Linked DNA regions of Homo sapiens: region 1 is linked to region 2. Evidence: fine-mapped expression QTL. A gene starts in region 2. The other region holds a variant in brackets. All regions are shown on one strand. Distances are between the middles of the regions. Region 1 has its middle 3.6 kb from the start of AQP3. Region 2 holds the start of NOL6 (nucleolar protein 6).

Region 1 (2,908 bases), 23 kb after region 2:
GTTTGGTGAGAGTTCACGGAGTCATGGTCCTGAAGGTTGGGCCCTGATGGAGGGGGTGGGGAACAAGGACATTGAGACCCAGCCCTTGTTCTGCTAGCTAAACCATGTGCCTTGGCATGCAGCTGCATTGACTGGAGGGGGTTGCAAAGATACTCTATGGTGAGCTGCAGTCCAGGATTATAGATAGACACATACATGCATGCATACATGGGTGAGTACAGGTAGCTGCATATGTATAAATAAATGCTGCTCAACGTATATAAGACAGACAAATCCATAATTGTGTGTGTAACTAGCTACTTCCTGGTGCAGCCCACGAGAAAACCCATGTGAGGTGAATGCAGACAGATGTGTGTGCAGGTTGCTTTTTTGTTTATTTGCTTTTTGAGACGGAGTCTGTCTCTGTCGCCCAGGCTGGAGTGCAGTGGTGCGATCTCTGCTCACTGCAACCTCAGCCTCCTGGGCTCAAGCGATTCTCTGGCCTCAGCCTCCCGAGTAGCTGGGATTACAGGTGCCTACCACCATGCCCGGCTAATTTTTTTTTGGCGAGGGGATAGAATTTCGCTCTTGTTGCCCAGGCTGGAGTGCAATGGCACGATCTCGACTCACTGCAAGCTCTGCCTCCCGAGTTCAAGCGATTCTCCTGCCTCAGCCTCCCAAGTAGCTGGGACTACAGGCGCACACCACCACACCTGGCTAATTTTTGTATTTTTAGTAGAGATGGGATTTATCCATGTTGGCCAGGCTGGTCTCGAACTCCTGACCTCAGGTGATCCATCTGCCTTGGCCTCCCAAAGTGCTGGGATTATAGGAGCAAGCCATCGTACCCGGCCTAATTTTTGTGTTTTTAGTGGAGACAGGGTTTTACCATGTTGGCCAGGCTGGTCTTGAACTCCTGAGCTAAAATGATCTGCCTGGCTTGGCCTCCCAAAATTCTGGGATTACAGGCATGAGCCACTGTGCCCGGCTCCAGGCCAGGTTCCTTTTTTTTTTTTTTTTTTTTTTTTTTGTGATGGAGTCTCGCTCTGTTGCCCAGGCAAGAGTGCAGTGGCGCCATCTTGGCTCACTGCAAGCTCTGCCTCCCAGGTTCATGCCATTCTCCTGCCTCAGCCTCCCGAGTAGCTGGGACTACAGGCGCCCACCACCACACCCAGCTAATTTTTTTTTATTTTATTTTTAGTAGAGATGGGGTTTCACCTTATTGGCCAGGATGGTCTCGATCTGCTGACCTTGTGATCCGCCCACCTCAGCCTCCCAAAGAGCTGAGATTGTAGGCGCGAGCCACCATGCCCGGCCTCCAGGTTGCTTTTATAAGGGAAGAGGAAAAGAAATAAAAAATAGAAGTGTGTGTAGTGTCTGCTGGTGAAAGAGCTTCCCCTGTTTTTCTCCCCTGCTCTGGTTCCCAGGCTAGATTTGGATGCCAGCAGACCCAGGATGGGACAGGGTGACAATGGGGTGTTGTGGGCTGGG[T/G]TTCCCTATTTTCTTTCGGTGTTGAGGAGTCCCTTGCCAGTTTCTGCCCTGTGCTGCCTTTGCAGCTCCACTTGAGGCAGGGATGGGCTGGATGCATATTATAGGGTGGGAGGAAAAGGGGGCAGCATGGCAGGGGTGCTCTACCACTCCCATAGCCTGTGATCTGGGCCCTGGCACCAGGAGTCTATGGTTCTGTCTTGAGTCACAGGCTGGCAGTGGGGCCAGAGGGCAGGTACTCAGTGATGGCTCCCTGATTCACCACGGGGCCTCCCAGCCTATAGAGGCCTGGAGGGTAGGGTGCATCTTTCTGGGTCAAGGGTCATTAGAGTCCTCATGTGGGGGTTCTATATATGTGTGAGCCCATGGCGAGGCTCTCATGTGAATGGGATCCCTGATCATGGGAGCAGAGCTCAGTGTCTATAGGCAAGTGTGTGACTGCAAACCACAGGGTGTGTGTGTGTGTCTGTGTGTTTGTGTGTGTGTATGCGCAAGCACCTGCATGTATGTGAATCTACTTCATGTGTATGCTAAACCCATCTCTTTGGGCATGAACCACCTCTGGGACTGGGAGCCCTTATTTCCTTTCTTTTCTTTTCTTTTTTAACATGCCTATCTAGGCCAGGTACGGTGAATCATGCCTGTAATCCCAGCACTTTGGGAGGCCGAGACGGGTGGATCACCTGAGGTCAGGAGTTCGAGACCAGCCTGGCCAACGTGGTGAAACCCCGTCTCTACTAAAAAAAACAAAAAACAAAAAACAAAAAAATTGGCTGGACATGGTGGTGCATGCCTGTAATCCCAGCTACTCGGGAAGCTGAAGCAGGAGAATCGCTTGAACCCAGGTGGGGTGATCTTGGCTCACTGCAACCTCTGCCTCCTGGGTTCAAGTGATCCTCCTGTCTCAGCCTCCCGAGTAGCTGGGATTACAGGCATGTGGCAGAGGTGGTTGATGCCCAAAGAGATGGGTTTAGCAATACTCATAATCCTACAATCCAAGCACTCTAGGAGGCCAAGGTGGGCAAATTGCTTGAGCTCGGGAGTTCCAGACCAGCCTGGCCAACATGGCGAAACCCCTTCTCTACAAACAATACAAAAATTAGCCGGGCATCGTGATGCATGCCTGTAGTCCCAGCTATTTGAGAGGCTGAGGTGGGAGGATTGTTTGATCCCATGAGCTAGAGGCTGGAGTGAGTCATCATCCATGTTTTTAAGAGCTTGTTTAGCTTCTTCTGCTACCTCTCCTGACACAACCTGTCCACTTGAAGGGTCCATGCCTATCTGTCCTGAAATGTCAATGGTCCTGTCACCTAACATAGTTTGACTGTAGGTCCCAGTGGCCCCTGGGGCTTTCTTGGTGCTGATCACATTTCTGATCAAGGACGACAGGACTAACCCTTCTCTCTTTTGGTCCCTCTGGGAGAAGAACCTCTGCACTAGC
Region 2 (2,908 bases):
TTTTTCCTTATGTATATTGTACTTCAATACAAATTTTTAGACTGGGCACGGTGGCTCACCCCTGTAATCCCAGCATTTTGGGAGACTGAGGAGGGCAGATCACTTGAGGCCAGAGTTTGAGATCAGGCTGGCCATCATGGTGAAACTCTGTCTCTACTAAAAATACAAAAATTGGCCTGGTGTGTTGGCGCATGCCTGTAATCCCAGCTACTTGGGAAGCTGAGCCACAATAATCAATTGAACCAGGAGGTGGATGTTGCAGTAAGCTGAGATCGACCCACTGCACTCTAGCCTGGGCAACAGAGGGACACTCACTCTCTCTCAAAAAAAAAAAAAAAAAAAAAAAAAAAAAATATATATATATATATATATATATATATATATATATATATTATATGGTAATAGTTGAATTTAGATGATCCTGCATTAGGAAATAAAATGAAACATATAACGGTTATTACTGGAATAACTGACAAAATTTAAAGATGGAATTTGTATACTAGTATTGAATCACGATTAAATTTCCTTAATTTCATAATCGGGCTGTGCTTACATAAGAGGTAGTCCTTGATCTTAGTAGATACATACCTAAGTATTTAGGGAGATGTGTGATTGGTTTTCAAATGGTTTTGCAAAATAATATGTAAATACATAGGTAAAGATAAACTTGGCAAAATAGTAACACTAAGTGAATCTAGGTGAAGAGTATATGCGCATTCATTATATTATTCTTGCAACATTTGTTTTAAATTTTTAATAGTTTAAAAATAGGCCGGGAGCAGTGGCTCAGGCCTGTAATCCCAGCATTTCGGGAGGCCAAGGTGGGCGGGTCACTGGCAGTCAGGAGTTTGAGACCAGCCTAGGCAACATGAGGAAACCCCATCTCTAGTGAAAATACAAAAATTAGACGGGTGTGATGGTACCTGCCTGTAATCCCAGCTCCTCAGGAGGCTGAGGCACGAGAATCGCTTGAGCCTGGGAGAGGGAGGATGCAGGGAGCTGAGATCGTGCCACTGCACTCCAGCCTGGGCGACAGAGCAAGACTACTCCAAAAATAAATAAATAAATAAATAAATAAATAAATAAATAAATAAATAAAAATAACTAAATTACTTGAAATTGTAATAAGCTAAGTAATAAGTAAAAACTGGAGAAAAGTCATAACAATAATTCGGGAACAAGATGATGTGACGGGCTAAACCTGGCAGTGAAGACACAGAAAAATGAATAAATTCAAGGTATGTTTTGGAGGTAGAACTGACAAGATTTGTTAACTGATAAGGTGTAGCAAATAAAGAAAAAGGGAGGAATAACTGCTGTAAACAAACCTGACCAAAAGGAACAAACTAGCTCCGCCCTTCCCGATTGCAGCCACGCGAAGGAAGTGAGGAAAAGAAAGCAAAGGCCTAGCTACGGGCAGGCTTCCGTTCTAGCGTCGCGAAGAGGCCGTAAAGCACAGAAACCCGTTTGTCCCCTCCCCTAATGGGCGGGCCTTGAGACTGCCCGGCCAATGGCAAGCGAGTAATCGACTGATAATCCAATAGCTCTGGAGTGGGTGGAGTCCTGAGGAATTGGGGTGGGCTGGACTTGGGCCTGGAGTTAGGCATTTCCGCCCACGTGGGAAGCTATGAGGTATAGACCCGGCTAGAATCTGAAGTGCGGGAGAGTGCTGGACCCTGAGTGATGGGGCCGGCGCCAGCTGGAGAGCAGCTTCGCGGAGCGACTGGAGAGCCAGAGGTGGGTTGAGCCATCGGGGAGGAACAGAGGCTCAATGTGCGCTCCCTTGGCTGCAGGGCCCGAGATGGCGTGATCTGACAGCTTGCGGGTGAAAGCCATGCCGGCGGCCCATTCTGGAGGATGTTTCCAGCCAGTGGCACTGAGACAGGGCTTGCTAGGGGTGATGGAACCTGGCAGTATTTGGTTAGAAGCAGTGAAGCCGGTAGAGCCTCTGCTCTCTTCTGGAGCTCTGCACCTCAAAGTTGAAGAGACCCACACTTGGGTCGTTTCTTTTATTTGGTGGTCCTTGACGATAAGCGGGATCTTCCTCCACAGAATTTGTGTCCAGTTCTGTGCTCCCCGCTGTAGCGGAGGGCATACGGTGCCTCTCCTGGAGCGCTCCAGTAAGGCTCTCTGGGATGAGAGGCATCGTGGAGCGGATGGGCCCACGGCTGTAGGGGAAAAGGTTTGGGATCCTGCACGCTTGCCTTTGAAGCCTGCTCATAGTACGGGTGTACCAGTTGTGGAACCTCGAGTGAATAGTGGGACTTCAAGTGTCTTCAAGAATTATTTTGAGGATTTAATGACTTGCTAAATGTGTCCTCTGGGGTCCAGTCGGTTCTAGCTCCTTCCATCAGTGAGTATTTAGTGTAAACTGAGGCAGTCAGGTCTTCCTAGAGGAGGTGGAACCTGGCAGGATTTGGTTGGAGCGAGAATGGGAAAGACATTTGAGAAGTCCCAGGCCTATATCAGCAGAAGAGGAAACTTCCTGAAAATACAAGGGGCCTGGGCATTACTTAGGGCAGGGCTCAGTCAGCTTCTTTTTTTTTTTTTTTTTTTTGACAGTCTTGCTCTGTTGCCCAGGCTAGAATGCAATGGCACGATCTCGGCTCACTTCAGCCTCTGCCTCCTGGGTTCAAGTGATTTTCCTGCCTCAGTCTCCCGCGTAGCTGAGATTACAGGCATGTGCCACCACACCTGGCTAATTTTTGTATTTTTAATAGAGACGGAGTTTCCCCATGTTGGCCAGGCTGATTTCGAACTCCTGACTTCAGCTGATCCGCCCAGCTCCACCTCCCAAACTGCTGGGATTACAGGCGTCAGCCACCGTGTCCAGCCTGGGCCCAGTCAGCTTCTATCACTACCAATTCCAAACAGAGCTCCATGCTTGTGGTGTCAGGTAGACAGGAGA

What was found. PIP is the estimated chance that this variant, and not a neighbour inherited with it, causes the effect. A credible set is the group of variants that fine-mapping cannot tell apart.
Region 1: its variant is the best candidate, but not a certain one, in a credible set for the expression of NOL6 in adrenal gland (GTEx, PIP 0.66).

Annotation. Positions count from the first base shown.
Region 1 is chr9:33,449,701-33,452,608 of GRCh38, reverse strand. No RefSeq gene overlaps it. Among named protein-coding and RNA genes, the nearest start is that of AQP3, 3.6 kb to the right of the region's middle. The variant T/G (reference allele first, on the strand shown) is at 1,471.
Region 2 is chr9:33,472,618-33,475,525 of GRCh38, reverse strand. NOL6 (nucleolar protein 6) reads left to right here and starts at 1,602. Exons shown (of 26, transcript NM_022917.5): 1 at 1,602-1,737. The coding sequence starts at 1,684. It overlaps LOC107987061 (a long non-coding RNA gene), which reads right to left and starts at 1,386. Exons shown (of 3, transcript XR_001746648.3): 1 at 1,329-1,386. RefSeq lists an enhancer at 1,651-1,990.